Linked DNA regions of Homo sapiens: region 2 is linked to region 1. The links come from fine-mapping of genetic effects on gene expression. Tissue or cell type: whole blood. Region 1 holds a variant in brackets; the other region holds the start of a gene. All regions are shown on one strand. Distances are from middle to middle.

Region 1 (8,064 bases):
CAGTTCTGCTGCCTGTTTTAGCAGAAGGACAAAAGTTGGTCTTTGGAGCTTAGAGAAGGCAGAACAGGCTGTTGGCATAGCAGCAACTTGGGCATCTTAGGAGGCCAAGGTGGGCGGATCACTTGAGGCCAGGAGTTCCAGACTAGCTTGGGCAACATGGTGAAACACCATCTCTACAAAAAATACAAATATTAGCCGGGCGTGGTGGCACGTGCCTGTAATCCCAGCTACTCAGGAGGCTGAGGCATGAGAATCACTTGAATCCAGGAGGCTGAGGTTGCAGTGAGCTGAGATCACAGCCTGGGCAACAGAGGGAGACTCCGTCTCAAAAAAAAAAAAAAAAAAAAAAAAACTTTTAAAATTCAACTGGGGTGGGGGTTTGGCCTCAAAAGAATGAATAAGAGGACCGCAGTCAGGAACTTGAGCCTGGGGTCAGTGCTATCTTTTTGCCTATGAAATCTGTCAATCCCCTGTGTCTAAGCTGTGGGGGAGGGGTAGGTGGGGAGCAGGCTGGGGGGCCCTTGTCCCTTACCCTCCACTCTTGGCCCAGGGGAAGAATGGCTGGTCACCACAGTAGGGGCGTACCTCCCAGCGGTGTTTGAGGAGGTTCTGGATTTGGTGGACGCCGTCATCCTTACGGAAAAGGTTGGTGCTCTGGGGGCTGTGGTTTAAGGGACCTGGGGCTAGGGAACCCTCCGAGTGGCAGAGAATGGTGGTAGAATGGCATGAGAGTAAAAGAGAAGCAATAATTTTAGGGTCACTTAAAAAAATTCAGAGATCAGATTGCCTGAGTATTCTGGATCATCTGAAGGGTTAAATAGTCTTTCTGGGGCTGGGCGCAATGACTCACATCTGTAATCTCAGCAATTTGGAAGGCTGAGGCAGGAGGATCACTTGAGGCCAGGAGTCTGAGACCAGCCTGGGCAACACAGTGAGAACTCATCGCTACAAAAAATTTAAAAATTAGCTGGGTGTAGTGGAGCATGCCTGTAATTCCAGTTACTCCAGAGGCGCTGAGGCAGGAGAATCGCTTGAACCCCAGAGGCAGAGGTTACAGTGAGCCATGATCATGCCACTGTGCTCCAGCCTGGGCAACAGAGCGAAACCCTGTCTCAAAAAAAAAAAAAAAAAACAAAGCCGGTCGGGTGCAGTGGCTCATGCCTGTAATCCTAGCATTTTGGGAGGCTGAGGTGGGAGGATCACCTGAGGTCAGGAGTTCAAGACAAACCTGGCCAACATGGCGAAACCCCATCTCTACTAAAAATACAAAAATTAGCTGGGCATGGTGTCACCCACCTGTAATCCCAGCTGTACTCAGGAGGCTGAGGCAGGAGAATCGCTTGAACCTAGGAGGCGGAAGTTGCAGTGAGCTGAGATCGCACCTTTGCACTCTAGCCTGGGCAACAAGAGAGAGACTCCGATTTAAAAAAAAAAAAAAACAATCCCTGGATTGGTAGAAATTGTCTCTGAGATCTGGGAGCATTGGGAGCATTTGGTGGCCAATGGGGCTCGCAGATCCCCTGAAGTTGGAGGCAGGTCACTCAAATACCCAACATGTTGCTCTGCAGACAGCCCTGCACCTCCGGGCTCGGCGGAACTTCCGGGACTTCAGGGGAGTGTCCCGCCGCACTGGGGAGGAGTGGCTGGTAACAGTGCAGGACACAGAGGCCCACGTGCCAGATGTCCACGAGGAGGTGCTGGGGGTTGTGCCCATCACCACCCTGGGCCCCCACAACTACTGCGTGATTCTCGACCCTGTCGGACCGGATGGCAAGAATCAGCTGGGGCAGAAGCGCGTGGTCAAGGTGAGGTCCCTACACCCCCACAGAGGACTGCCCTGGGAGATGTATGTCCTCTAGTGGCATGAGGCCCTCTGCCTTCTCTCCTCCAGACGCACGTTCTAGGAACACCTTCTGTGCCTTTGCATGCTTAGTTCTTACACACCTGAGACACTGGCCCATTTGATTCCTGGCAGCCTCTGACTTACCCCTCAGACCTGAAGTTAATTCCCCTTCTGGGAAGGCCTCCTGGCTACCCGCTGCCTGAGACTCTGAAACTCTGATACAGTCATGCGCCACTTAATGATGGGGATACATTCTGAGAAATAGTCCTTAGATGATTTTGTCTTTGTGCAAAAGAGTGCACTTATGCAAACCTAGATGGCACCTAGTCTAGATGGCGTAGCCTGCCCCTAGGCTGCCAACCTGTGCAGCATGTGACTGTCCTGAATACTGCAGGCAGCTGAACACAATGGCAAGTACTTGTGTATCTAGCCATAGAAAAGGTAAGGTAAAAATACAATATAAAAGCTTCGTTATAGGCCAGCACAGTGGCTCATACGTGTAATCCCAGCACTTTGGGAGGCCGAGGCAGGTGGATCACTTGAGGTCAGGAGTTCGAGACTAGCCTGGCCAACGTGGGGAAACCCTGTCTCTACTAAAAATACAAAAATTAGCCAGGTGTGGTGGCACACACCTGTAATTCCAGTTACTCGGGAGGCTGAGGCACGAGAATCACTTGAACCCTGGAGATCAAGCCTGTGGTGAGCCGAGATCGTGCCACTGCACTCTAGCCTGGGCGATAGAGTGAGACTCTCAGAAAAAAAAAAAATCTCCATTATAATCTTACGGGACCACCATGTGCAGTCTGTAATGGACTGAACTATCATGCAGTGACTATATTTCACATCTTTAATATCCTGGTGTTCACTTTGCTTTGTCATCTTTTGTAAAATAAACCTCTTGGTTTACCCTCTCCCACCCCCTACTTCATCCCCTCTCTGAACTATATGTGGGAATACCAGCAGTTGCCAAACTCATTCTGTAAAGGGGGCTGGATGGTAGATACTCCAGGCTCCGTGAGTCATTGTTTCTGTGGAAGTTCTTCAACTCTGCTGTTATGTCAGGAAAGCAGCTTGGGCACTACGTAAACAAGTGAGTACTGCCATGCTCCTGGAATAGTTTATCTGCAAAAACAGGAGGCAGAAAAAGTAGAAATAGGCCAGGCATGGTGGCTTACATGTGTAATCCCAGCACTTTACGAGTCCAAAGCGGGTGGATCGCTTGAGGTCAGGAGTTAGAAACCATCCTGGCCAACATGGCAAAACCCTTTCTCTACTAAAAATACAAAAAAATTAGCTGGGCATGGTGTCAGGCACCTGTAATCCCAGCTTCTCTGGAGGCTGAGGCAGGAGAATTGCTTGAACCCGGGAGGCGGAGGTTGCAGTGAGCCGAGATCACACCACTGCACTCCAGCCTGGGTGACAGAGCAAGACTGTCTCAAAAAAAAAAAAAAATTAGAAATAACCCAAATGTACATATATAATGAATGGATAAAAAATTGTAGCATATCCATACAATGGAATATCATTCAGCCATAAGAAAGAAATGGCAGGCCAGGCGCAACAGCTCATGACTATAATCCCAGTGCTTTGGGAGGCCGAGGCAGGAGGATTGCTTGAAGCCAGGAGTTTGAGACCAGCCTGGGTAACATAGTGAGACCCCATTTTTACAAAAACTTTTAAAAATTGACCAGGCATGGTGGCACACCTGTAGTCCCAGCTATTTGGGAGGCTAAAGTGGGAAAATCGCTTGACCCCAGGAAGTGGAGTGTATAGTGAGCTATGATTGTGCCACTGTACTCCAGCCTGAGGCAGTAGAGTGAGATCCTGTCTCTAGGAAAAACAAAAAATAATGACATACGTGCTACAACATGGATAAAATTGAAAATGTTATGCTAAGTGAAAGAAGCCAGCTGGACGCAGTGGCTCACGCCTGTAATCCTAACACTTTAGGAGGCTGAGGTGGGCACATCACCTGAGGTCAGGAGTTCAAGACCAGCCTGGCCAACATGGTGAAGCCCCGTCTCTGTTAAAATACAAAAATTAGCTAGCATGATGGCGGGTGCCTGTAATCCCAGCTACTGCTCGGGAGGCTGAGACAGGAGAATCTCTTGAACCTGGAAGACAGTAGTTGCAGTGAGCCGAGATCCCACCACTGCACTCCAGCCTGGGCTGCTGAGCCGAGACTCCATCTCAAAAAAAGAAAAAGAAAAAAGCCAGACATCAAAGACCACATATTGCATGATTCCATTTATGTGAAATGTCCAGAATAGGTAAACACATAAAGAAAATAGACTAGTGGTGGGTGGGGTAGGTGGGGAGTGGCAGTAACTTCTAGGTACAGGATTTCTTTTCAGGGTGATGACGAAAATACTCTAGACTTAACATAG[C/T]AGTGATGGTTGGACAACTTTGAGTATACTAAAACAACTGAATTGTGAATTGTATACTCTAGATGGGAAAATTTCATATGTGGATTATATCTCAAAATTTTTTTAAGAAACAGGCGGTGCTGGGCGTGGTGGCTCACATCTATAATCCCAGCACTTTGGAAAGCTGAGGTGGGTAGATCGCTTGAGTCTAGGACTTTGAGACCAGCTTAGGCAGCATGGCAACACCCCATCATCTACGAAGCACACAAAAATTAGCTGGGTGTGGTGATGCGCATCTGTAGTCCCAGCTCCTTGGGAGGCTGAGGTGGGAGGATTGCTTGAGCCTGGAAGGTTGAGGCTGCAGAGAGCTGAGATCATGCCACTGCACTATCCAGCCTGGGCAAGAGAGGAAGACTATCTCAAAAAAAAAAAAAAAAAAAAAAAAAGGCAGAATCCAGATTTGGCCTGAAAACCAGAGTTTGTCAAGCCCTAGGTTACACCATCTCTAGAAAACAAAGCCTGGGAGAAAGAAGAAAAAACAGGTTGATTTTTAATGGTTTAGCTTGCGTGGATCCAGGTCCTGACAGTTATGGAATCTTTCAAGGACACATTTGACCAGATGAGATTTGGCAGGCGTTTGTGTAGAGCCTCACAGTCCAGACAGTGCCTCACCGTATTATGATGTGGGGGTGGGGGCGGGCTTCTGGTGCTCTTGTCCTCCACACAGGCCTGAAACAGCACAGGACTGGGGAGGTACCATTGGAAGCACCCGCAACCCTAAAGGCACTGACCCTAACCTCACGTCTCCCCACTAGGGAGAGAAGTCTTTTTTCCTCCAGCCAGGAGAGCAGCTGGAACAAGGCATCCAGGATGTGTATGTGCTGTCGGAGCAGCAGGGGCTGCTGCTGAGGGCCCTGCAGCCCCTGGAGGAGGGGGAGGATGAGGAGAAGGTCTCACACCAGGCTGGGGACCACTGGCTCATCCGCGGACCCCTGGAGTATGTGCCATCTGCCAAAGTGGAGGTGGTGGAGGAGCGCCAGGCCATCCCTCTAGACGAGAACGAGGGCATCTATGTGCAGGATGTCAAGACCGGAAAGGTAATGGCTGGGAGTGAGCAGCAGTGCTGCCACGTGGCCTTGGCCTTGGTGGCGGCTTCCTCTGGGTGTGTGGAAGAGGTGGGCAGGGACTTCAGCAGCATGGAGAGCCATATCAGGTGGGCTGTCTGGTTGGGGGAGGGCACTACGTGGAGTGTTTGCCATCCTTCTGCCTTAAATGTCTCATTTGAAATGTTAGAACCAACCAGGTGCGGTAGCTCACATCTGTAATCTCAGCACTTTGGGAGGCCGAGGCGGGCGGATCACCTGAGGTCAGGAGTTCAAGACTAGCCTGGCCAACATGGGAAACCCTGTCTCTACTAAAAGTACAAACATTAGTCAGGCGTGGTGGTGGTCTGAGTAGTCCCAGATACTTGGGAGGCTGAGACAGGAGAATTGCTTGAACTGGGAAGCGGAGGTTGCAGTGAGCCGAGATCACACCACTGCACTTCAGCCAGGGTGACAGAGTGAGACTCTGTCAAAAAAAAATATTAGCATGTCCACTGAGAGGACAAGTGGGGGTTTAGGACAGGGACCCTTTCCCACAGCAGACCTGGTTTCCAGCATAAAGGTCTGATGGGGTGGCCAGGGAACAGGAAGGACCTCCTCCCTCATGCCCATATCCCGGTGGAATCTTTCATTTTTTTCTGCTTCACCTAAAACCTTGACCTTGATTTGACCTCGGGCCACATCTCCAACCTTCTCTAAGAATCCAAGCTGGAAGTCCAGCTTGGAATCCGAGGGAGCATCCGTGTACACAGCCTACTTCACCATCCCCGAGGTGCCCTCCAAACTGCCCCATGAAGGAAGATTCTAGAAATAACATTGAGCACCTTCTCTATGCCAAGAGCTGTTTGAGCTAGACATGTGAAGATGTCATTCACCCCTAGACCCTGCAAGGTAGCCACCGTCAAGTCCACTTGACACATGAGGAAACTGAAGCCCAAGGGGTGAGGTAGTTAGCCCACGATGACAGGGCCAGCAGATGGCAAACCCGGGGTGGAGCCTGGCCTCCCCGTAGAGAAGGTGTTTAACCTCGTGGCGCGCCTTCCCTGGATGGGCTCTGCTTTGGGACAGCTGGGCGGATCTTCCTCCCTTCCACCCTTACGGGCAGCTTCCCTCCCTGTCCTCGTCCCAAGGTGCGCGCTGTGATTGGAAGCACCTACATGCTGACCCAGGACGAAGTCCTGTGGGAGAAAGAGCTGCCTCCCGGGGTGGAGGAGCTGCTGAACAAGGGGCAGGACCCTCTGGCAGACAGGGGTGAGAAGGACACAGCTAAGAGCCTCCAGCCCTTGGCGCCCCGGAACAAGACCCGTGTGGTCAGCTACCGCGTGCCCCACAACGCTGCGGTGCAGGTGTACGACTACCGAGAGAAGCGAGCCCGGTGAGTGCTGGCAGCGCAGGGTGTAGGGGGTGGCTCTCCATGGGTCTGGCTCTGACCCTCGGCTGTCTCTGCAGCGTGGTCTTCGGGCCTGAGCTGGTGTCGCTGGGTCCTGAGGAGCAGTTCACAGTGTTGTCCCTCTCAGCTGGGCGGCCCAAGCGTCCCCATGCCCGCCGTGCGCTCTGCCTGCTGCTGGGGCCTGACTTCTTCACAGACGTCATCACCATCGAAACGGCGGATCATGCCAGGCTGCAACTGCAGCTGGCCTACAACTGGTAAAAATGGGGACAGGGCATGGGGGTGCATTCCTGGAATCCCAGCACTTTGGGAGGCTGAGGTGGGAGGATCACTTGAGCCTAGGAGGTCCAGGCTGCAGTGAGCCTTGATGGCCCCACTATACTCCAGCCTGGGTGACAGAGCAAGACCCTGTTTCTTTGTTTTTTGTTTTTTTAGTTTTTTGGTTTTTTGGTTTTTTGGTTTTTTTTGAGACCGAGTTTCACTCTTGTTGCCCAGGCTGGAGTGCAATGGCGCGATCTTGGCTCACTGCAACCCCCACCTCCCGGATTCAAGCGAGTCTCCTGCCTCAACCTCCCAAGTGGCTAGGATTACAGGCATGTGCCACCATGCCCAGCTAGTTTTGTATTTTTAGTAGAGATGGGGTTTCTCCATGTTGGTCAGGCTGGTCTCGAACTCCTGACCTCAGGTGATCCGCCTGCCTCGGCTTCCCAAAGTGCTGGGATTACAGGCATGAGCCACTGCACCCGGTCAACCCTGTTTCAAAACAAAAAAAACAAACCGGGTGGCAAGCAGTGGGTGAGGGTTCCTGCTGGGTGCAGCCTAGGAACCCCAAGAAAAGGAGGGTCCTGCTCAAGTGCTGGTGCTGGGCTCCTCATGAAGGCAGGACACCTCATTCAGTGCTGAGGTCAAGAGGGAACCTAGGAGTTCACGCAAATCCAGGGAAGGCGTGGGCTCACCTCCTGGGGTCAGGACTCAGGGATCCAGTAGCAGGACACTACCCCAACTAAGCTCCCAGTGAGCGTGCAGCCAAATGCGTAACTGTCGGGCTGTTAAAAGATGCATGGGACACAGCTGGCGGGAGTGGGCAGTGCAAGGGGGCGGTGAGAACTCAAGTTCAGAAACTGACTGCCCTGGCCTGCGCCCCCGCCCTGCTGTTTGCAGCCTGTGGACCTGGGGAAGGGACAGGGTGCTTTCCTCAGTTTCCCCATCTGTAACATGAGGAAGACAGCATTTTCTCCTTCACAAGGCCATTGAAAAGATGCAATGAGTGTTAGAACAGTGCCTCTATTGGTCAGAGCTCAATAGCAGCTATTAGGATTGGGTGAGATAAGTCATGTACAGAAACAGTGTTCATGACTGGGT
Region 2 (8,064 bases), 26 kb before region 1:
GAGTACACGGGCCGGGCTTTACCAGCACGCACCCTGCACGGGTAGCAGAGAAAGCTGCCTTCAGTCAGACTCACCGGTTAACTGGGTTGAGACCGCGGGGCACTGGAGGGAAGGGGACACAGCCGTCTCTGCTGAGGGTCAACCCTGCAAGTGGCTAGGAGTCAGTGTCTCGTCATCCTGGGAGAGGTCTCCCGGCCATGGAGAATGAGTTCTGTAGGTACCAAGGCTGAGAAGCGGGCACCACACAAGCCAGGCCCCAGGCTCAGGGAGGGGCTGTGTCTACCAGCCCCAACAGAGCAGTTGGCCCCAGGCTACCAAGGATACCGTGGGAGGAGGACAGGGCCATCTGAGGAGGGCATCCCCCGCCTAGGAGATCAGCCCCGTCTCTGGGGTCTCCGCCTGGCTGACCCCCGCCCCATCCCAATCCACCCCCCAATAGGCTTCACCACGGCAGCATACCTGCGCATCCACGCGGTGAAGGACCACGGGCTCCAGGCCCCGCGGGCTGACCGCATCCTGTGCAAGCTGTGCAGCGTGCACTGCAAGACCCCTGCCCAGCTGGCCGGCCACATGCAGACCCATCTGGGGGGGGCCGCCCCCCCTGTCCCGGGAGACGCCCCCCAGCCACAGCCCACCTGCTGAGGGGGACCCCCGCACCCACCAGGCAAGGCGTGGGGCATGGCTGGGGGGCGGGATGGGGGGTGTGGGGGACAACGGGGCTCAAAGGGCCCAATAGGGGATCTCAGGAAGGCGAGGGATGCCCATGTACCACTCAGGCTAGGGAGACTTCTGGGCACAGGGAGGATCCTTGAGAACTGCTCTGTCTGGGTGAGGATGCAGGCTGAGGCCTCTGGGGTCCAGATAGGAAGTGAGCAACGGCTGTGTCCCAGGGGAAGCAGGCTGGGAAGGTGTGGGGTGAGGGCAAGGCTCTTGCCATTCAGATCGCGCTGTGATCCGTGGTGTTTCTCCTGTGCAGGTACTGGTGAGGTTTGTCCAATGGCGGCGGCAGCGGCAGCGGCGGCAGCGGCAGCAGCGGCAGCAGTAGCAGCCCCTCCCACAGCTGTGGGCTCCCTCTCGGGGGCGGAGGGGGTGCCTGTGAGCTCTCAGCCACTTCCCTCCCAACCCTGGTGAGCTCCAAGTTGGTTGCGGGGGAGAGGGGAGAATGGAGTAGAGTCCCTTGGTACAAGCTCCTCTCCCCCCTCTTTTCCCACCAACTCCTATTTCCCTACCAACCAAGGAGCCTCCAGAAGGAAAGGAGGAAGAAATGTTTTCTTAGGGGAATTCGCTAGGTTTTAACGATTTGTTTCTCCTGCTCCTCTTCTGTCAGACCTGACCCCACACAAACCTGTCCCCTCGGTTGTGTTGAAGTCCCCTGGACAGTGGGCAGGGGTGGCAGAGGACACGAGCAGCCACTGCCCGTACCCCCTCTCCTCTCTGTAAGCCCATGCCCTGTCTTCCCAGGGACTTGTGAGCCTCTTCCCTCGACGGTCCTCTTCTCTCCTTCCAGTCCTCTCCCCCTGCTGTCTGCAGCCCCTCCCCGGGGAGTTGGTGCTTTCTTTTCCTTTTTTTTTTTTTTCCAGGGGGAGGGAGGAGAGGAAGGAGGGGGATCAGAGCTGTCCCAAAGAGGGAAAGCGGTGAGGTTTGAGGAGGGGCAGAAGCAGGGCCGGCAAAGGTTGTACCTTCATAAGGTGGTATGGGGGGTTGGGGTCAGGCCCTGAACATCGTCCTACTTGAGAATCTGTCAGGGGAAAAAGTCAAGGGGAGCAGGAGGAAGAGCCAGGAGGGCCAGAGGCAGAGAAGAGATGGAGTCTTAGGGGCCAGGGTGAGCGAGGGGTCCAGGGCCTAGAGGTGCTTCCTGGGGGCGGGGGAATGCAGCCAGTGTCCCCCTCCCCTCTTCCACCCCAGCTCCAGCCCTGGTCTTGTCTTTTCATCCCTCTTCCCCACGACAGAAGAAGTTGTGGCCCTGGCCATGTCATCGTGTTCCTGTGTCCCCTGCATGTACCCCACCCTCCACCCCTTCCTTTTGCGCGGACCCCATTACAATAAATTTTAAATAAAATCCTGTTTCTGGCTCTGGATTGAATGAATTGCCCTCACTAAGAACTGCCGCCAACCCCAAGGGTTTCTTCTCGGCCTGGTGTCCGTCAATCCAGCCTTGCTCTGCCCTGTGAGGCTGTGAGGTTCTGGCTCCGCCCTCCCCAGGGGCAGCCTTACTGGCGGCAGCACAGATACAGGGCGGGGCCAAGGCTGTGGCTGTGGAGAGCAAGTTCCAGGTCTCTGGGGAATTCCCAACTCGGACAGGCCCAGAATAGCCCCTGGAGGTTTGAAGAGGCCCCGTCAGAAACCCAAACAGAGCTGCCAGACGGGAATGCCGCCCTCCCCCGTCCACACTCATGGCCGCTGCTCAGCCCCCAGCCGCATCCCTCCCCACGCGCGTCACGGCCCTGAGGCCATGGTGGGTGGATGCGGCTGCGGAAAGGCTGGGGAGTCCGAGCCCTAGGACTGGGAGCAGCGAGGTAGAGAATGAAAGCTGCACCTGTCCCTCATCCTGGGCATGGGCCACTCTGTGTTTACACGGGCTCCTCTGCCCAGCTCCTCCTGCCCCTTGGAATTCCCTTTCCTGTCCCCGCTCCGTCCTTTCCAGGGCCCCTTTTTTGAGCCTTCCAGCGCCAGTTTCTGCCGCTCCTTTCTGCAGGCTCCATTCTCTCCAAACCCCACCCTGCTCCTCCTCTGCAGCCTCCCCGCGTCTTGCCCCATCTTCCTTGCCCTCCTGCTCGTAGAGACGCCTCCACCCGGTCCTGCCTGTCTCACTGGTCCCGTCTCCTCGCAGAACCCTCTCCGTTTCCCCCAAATCCCCGTCTCTTCCAGGAATCCCGGTGACCGTTGGCGGGAGGGGCCGGGGACTTAAGAAGGAGGCGTCTCTCCTGGAGGCGCGCGTGAGAAGGGGCAGGGAGGGGGCGCGAGTGGTCCCCGGGCCGGTTGCCTGGGTAACGCGTGGCTCCCTTGGGCTGGCGGGAGGGGCCGGAGGCTCGCGAGGGGCGGGGGCGGCGACGGCGGCGGAGCGTAGGGGAGGGGACCGGAGAGGAGGGGATGAGCACACGGGAGAGGAGAAGAGGGAGACCCGCCGCCTCCCTCCCTCCCTAGCTGACTTGCTCCCTCCCGGGCTGCGGCTGCTGCAAAAGCCAGCAGCGGCAGCGGGAGCTGTCCGGAGGCCGGCGTCGAGGTGAGACCCGGGCAGACTGAGGCTGCGGGTAGGAGTGGACCGACCGACGGCTGACGCCGGGCGGACTGCACGGGAATGCGGGTGTCTGGAGGGCTGGTGGTGGTGCTGGGCGGGCTGAACCATCGGGAGGAGGCGCCAGCCCACCGAAGGCGAGGGAAGCCCCGGGAGAGGGGCTGACAGGGGATCGAAGGAGATAACCAGGTCCCCCAGAAAGGGGCGGGAGCGTCCTCGCCCTAAACGCGCAGCAAGAAAACCCGCACCGCCTGGGAGCCCAGGGAGGAGGGGAGGATGCAGAGGGAGTGGAATGCGAATGTCGGGTCCTCTGCCCAGTCGGCCTGTCGGAGTGCTATTTGCACAGCTCGTTGATTTTGGGGTGCTGGGATCTGAGAGTCTGGATCTTGTTGGATGGACCCAGGGAGAGACCCTGGAGAAGGTCCTGTTTACAAAAGGGTTAATCTTCCCCAGGGCTCTCCAAGCAGAAGACTTTGAGTAGAGCACTCCTCCCGCAGGGATGTCCCACCCTAAGGCAAAGGAAACCCCAACTTTTCTTCCTCTCCCTAGAGGCAGTGCAAGGCTGGCCCTGAGACAGGAATGTGGCCCAATTGGGCCTGCAGTGCTGAGCGCCCTCTTCCCTCCTCACCCCAAGCCTATCTCCTCCTCTTCCAGGGTTTGCCGCTGTCTCTGCTATTCCATCCTCCCCATAGGGGCTCTCTCCCCTCTCCCATCTCAAGATGGCAGCCAGCAGCTCTGAGATCTCTGAGATGAAGGGGGTTGAGGAGAGTCCCAAGGTTCCAGGCGAAGGGCCTGGCCATTCTGAAGCTGAAACTGGCCCTCCCCAGGTCCTAGCAGGGGTACCAGACCAGCCAGAGGCCCCGCAGCCAGGTCCAAACACCACTGCGGCCCCTGTGGACTCAGGGCCCAAGGCTGGGCTGGCTCCAGAAACCACAGAGACCCCGGCTGGGGCCTCAGAAACAGCCCAGGCCACAGACCTCAGCTTAAGCCCAGGAGGGGAATCAAAGGCCAACTGCAGCCCCGAAGACCCATGCCAAGAAACAGTGTCCAAACCAGAAGTGAGCAAAGAGGCCACTGCAGACCAGGGGTCCAGGCTGGAGTCTGCAGCCCCACCTGAACCAGCCCCAGAGCCTGCTCCCCAACCAGACCCCCGGCCAGATTCCCAGCCTACCCCCAAGCCAGCCCTTCAACCAGAGCTCCCTACCCAGGAGGACCCCACCCCTGAGATTCTGTCTGAGAGTGTAGGGGAAAAGCAAGAGAATGGGGCAGTGGTGCCCCTGCAGGCTGGTGATGGGGAAGAGGGCCCAGCCCCTGAGCCTCACTCACCACCCTCAAAAAAATCCCCCCCAGCCAATGGGGCCCCCCCCCGAGTGCTGCAGCAGCTGGTTGAGGAGGATCGAATGAGAAGGGCACACAGTGGGCATCCAGGATCTCCCCGAGGTAGCCTGAGCCGCCACCCCAGCTCCCAGTTGGCAGGTCCTGGGGTGGAGGGGGGTGAAGGCACCCAGAAACCTCGGGACTACATCATCCTTGCCATCCTGTCCTGCTTCTGCCCCATGTGGCCTGTCAACATCGTGGCCTTCGCTTATGCTGTCATGGTGAGCCCCATGGGACCCTAGCCCAGGCCTGCTGTGGCTCCCAGCTTCCCGCCAGCGCTGCAATAGAGCCTCTGGAGTAATCATGCCTTCCTTCCCCTCTCCTCTCTGCATGGATCCCACCTCCCCAATTCCAGGGCCTTTGTTTGCCTCTCCCTAGGACCTAACCCTCTGAGCCACCACTGCCCTGCCCCTTTGGGTGGGAGGGATATGGAAACACGTGTCACACAGCCTCGCTGACCTGTGCCCTCCTCCCCCTGCCCCTTCACTCCTCCTTCCTCCCTTACCCGCCATCTATGGGGCTGGCCTCTCTCTCTTCTGGATGACTTTTCCACCTGATCCCTTCTGGGCTGGCTTCTCCTGACCCCGGCTATGTGCCTCCACCCCTCGCCCTAACCCCAGTCCCGGAACAGCCTGCAGCAGGGGGACGTGGACGGGGCCCAGCGTCTGGGCCGGGTAGCCAAGCTCTTAAGCATCGTGGCGCTGGTGGGGGGAGTCCTCATCATCATCGCCTCCTGCGTCATCAACTTAGGCGGTGAGTGGGGGCTTGGGACAGGCAGGGGAGGAATGGAAGGGTTGGCAAGGGCAGCTTTACTAACCCCTGCCCCTGCTCTCTCCTGTCTGTCCTCCTTACCTCTCCTTTGTCTCTCCTTGTCTCCCCCTCCCCCCGTCTGTCCTTCCCTCTCCTCTCCCACAGTGTATAAGTGAGGGGCTCTGCCCCGCATCCCAAGACTTTTCTTCCTGTTGGGAGCTGCCTTGGGCCCATCCCTCCCCTGGGGGGAGCCCAACTGATGGCCCTGGCCCCCACCCCTAAGGACCAAGGGAGCCTGAGCGGCCTTGTTTACAGCTTCTGTCCTGCTCCTGCATCTTGCCAGGCTCCTCTGCCAACTGTAGGCCTGCCTCATCCCTGCACTGGTTCCAACCTCCCTGCACTAATGCCTGCATCCCCTCCGGCCTCTTGGCCCCCTATCCCTGCACTTCTGGAAACCTCCCTGCACTCTGGAAACCTCCCTGAACACCTCCCCAACTCTGCGCTCTCAGCCTCCCTGCATCTCTCCTGGCCTCCCTGCACTTCTTCCAGCCCCCCAAATTCTCTGGACCTCCACCCTGGCCGCCTCCTCCCAACTTTCATTGTCTTGGCATCTCTCAACCCTCAGTCCTCTCTTCCTTCCCTTCTTTATCATCTCCCCTTTCCTCTCCACGTCCCGCCCCCTTCCTCTTCCTGCCTCCTCATCTCCCTTAAGCATCCTCTTCTCCAACCTCCCGTCACCGTTTACTCTGCAAAATTGACAGCACTTAGACGAGGCTTGGGGGCAGGGAGCAGTGTTGGGAGAGGGCTCCCCAACCCCAGGCTCGGACTGTTCTCTGCTGGGACCACCCAGGGTCGGACACCCAAGGGTGCCTGGCAGGTCGCAGAGTTGGCAAGCCGGGCCTCGTATGGGGACTCGGGTGAGGGTGGCGAGTACTGGTTCCGAACGCACGCAGGGGAGAAGGGAGGGACGCGGCGCTGACCCTTCCAGGTCAGCTGGAGTTGACCCGCCCACCTGGGCTTTTCAACCCCAGTCCGCGAGTTTCTTTCTTGAAGGTGTGGGGGCTAGATTCATTCACGTGCTTCGTAATGAAATAATCCAAAAAATAGGACCAAAGCGCCCACTGGCAGGAGCGAGGGCGGGGCGCCGCGCTCTATAATTATTTTCTAAGATGATGGGGGAGGTTTGTTGCACGCGACAGCCCGCTGAGGAGGCGGGGACCGAGCTACAACGCGGTTCGGATTTGGCGGGGGTTTTTTTCCTTAAAAAAAAAAAAAAAAAAAAAAAAAAAGTCTGGGGGAAGAAAAAAACTAAAATTCTTAAAAAAAAAAAAAAAAGGCTATTATCAAACTGATTTCTCCCTTTTTGTATGCCGGATGCTGCATGAGTCTGAAACACCAATAAACGGAGACTGCATGAGACTCGCCTCCAATCTCGGTTGGTTCCTGCGTTCGTCCCGCCGGCCCGGCGGTGCTGCCTTTCTGGCAGAACCTTACTGGGTGGTATACGCATGCGACTTCCCGGTGGCCATCTTTACTGTGGGCTGAAGCCTGTGCGCTTACTCGCGCATGTGCAAGCCTTCCCTCGCTTTCCTCTTCCAAGTAGCCTTGCCTAGAGCGGAGCCTCCCGCGCCATTTCTGTGCGCCTGCGTAGCGTGACCCTGCGCAGCCTGGGAGGCGGGTCTTAGCTCCAGGTGCGTACGGCATCTGACTTGACGTGGCCCACAACTGAAAGGTCTGGGGAGAAGGCGCCGTGTCCGGGTGTGGAGAGGGGCGTCGTGGAAGCGAGAAGAGTGGCCCGTCCCTCTCCTCCCCCTTTCCCTCTTTCGGAAAGTGGTTTCTGCGGGGCCCGGGAGCCTCGGAGTACCGAACCTCGATCTCCGGGGCGGGGTCCTTGGTGGGGACTGAGCGCCCCCTCCCGGGGACGGGCGGTCTGGCCGCGGAGTCCCCTGCGGGAGCGTGATTGGCTGGAAACGGTCCCGAACCCCCAGGGGAGCCCGATCCCTGGGGGACCCTGGCTTCGGACTCCAGTATCTGTCGTCGCAGGGTCCCTGCCCTAGTGGCCTATGTCCCTTGCTCGGGGCCATGGAGACACTGCGGCCAGTACGGCGGCGCCTCTGTCTGAAGAAGGGGAAGTGACCTCCGGCCTCCAGGCTCTGGCCGTGGAGGATACCGGAGGCCCCTCTGCCTCGGCCGGTAAGGCCGAGGACGAGGGGGAAGGAGGCCGAGAGGAGACCGAGCGTGAGGGGTCCGGGGGCGAGGAGGCGCAGGGAGAAGTCCCCAGCGCTGGGGGAGAAGAGCCTGCCGAGGAGGACTCCGAGGACTGGTGCGTGCCCTGCAGCGACGAGGAGGTGGAGCTGCCTGCGGATGGGCAGCCCTGGATGCCCCCGCCCTCCGAAATCCAGCGGCTCTATGAACTGCTGGCTGCCCACGGTACTCTGGAGCTGCAAGCCGAGATCCTGCCCCGCCGGCCTCCCACGCCGGAGGCCCAGAGCGAAGAGGAGAGATCCGATGAGGAGCCGGAGGCCAAAGAAGAGGAAGAGGAAAAGTAAAGGCACACCCTTACACCTTGTCCCGGGGCTGCTCCCCTGATGGCGGGAGGAAATAGGGAGGGGAAAATGTGGGACGCTGGAACCTTTGAAAGTGGAGGGAGGGAAGCCAGCGGGGGAGGAGGAACGGGCAGGGGAGAAGCACACGTGTGGGTG

What was found. PIP is the estimated chance that this variant, and not a neighbour inherited with it, causes the effect.
Region 2: it holds the start of PRRT2, and the variant in region 1 is fine-mapped to the expression of PRRT2 in whole blood (INTERVAL, PIP 0.97).

What each region holds. Positions count from the first base shown.
Region 1 is chr16:29,835,154-29,843,217 of GRCh38, forward strand. It overlaps MVP (major vault protein), which reads left to right. Exons shown (of 15, transcript NM_005115.5): 6 at 551-645; 7 at 1,569-1,805; 8 at 5,025-5,306; 9 at 6,443-6,687; 10 at 6,762-6,959. Among named protein-coding and RNA genes, the nearest start is that of MVP, 19 kb to the left of the region's middle. The variant C/T (reference allele first, on the strand shown) is at 4,231.
Region 2 is chr16:29,809,101-29,817,164 of GRCh38, forward strand. It overlaps PRRT2 (proline rich transmembrane protein 2), which reads left to right and starts at 3,093. Exons shown (of 4, transcript NM_145239.3): 1 at 3,093-3,223; 2 at 3,890-4,833; 3 at 5,233-5,365; 4 at 5,528-6,781. The coding sequence starts at 3,955. The coding sequence ends at 5,538. MAZ (MYC associated zinc finger protein) reads left to right here. Exons shown (of 5, transcript NM_002383.4): 5 at 977-2,064. The coding sequence ends at 1,131. PAGR1 (PAXIP1 associated glutamate rich protein 1) reads left to right here and starts at 7,052. Exons shown (of 3, transcript NM_024516.4): 1 at 7,052-7,907. The coding sequence starts at 7,426. MVP-DT (MVP divergent transcript) reads right to left here. Exons shown (of 4, transcript NR_186424.1): 3 at 935-1,073; 4 at 1-33. RefSeq lists silencers at 2,466-2,545, 2,946-3,095, 7,194-7,363 and enhancers at 5,762-6,391, 6,284-6,503, 6,754-7,003.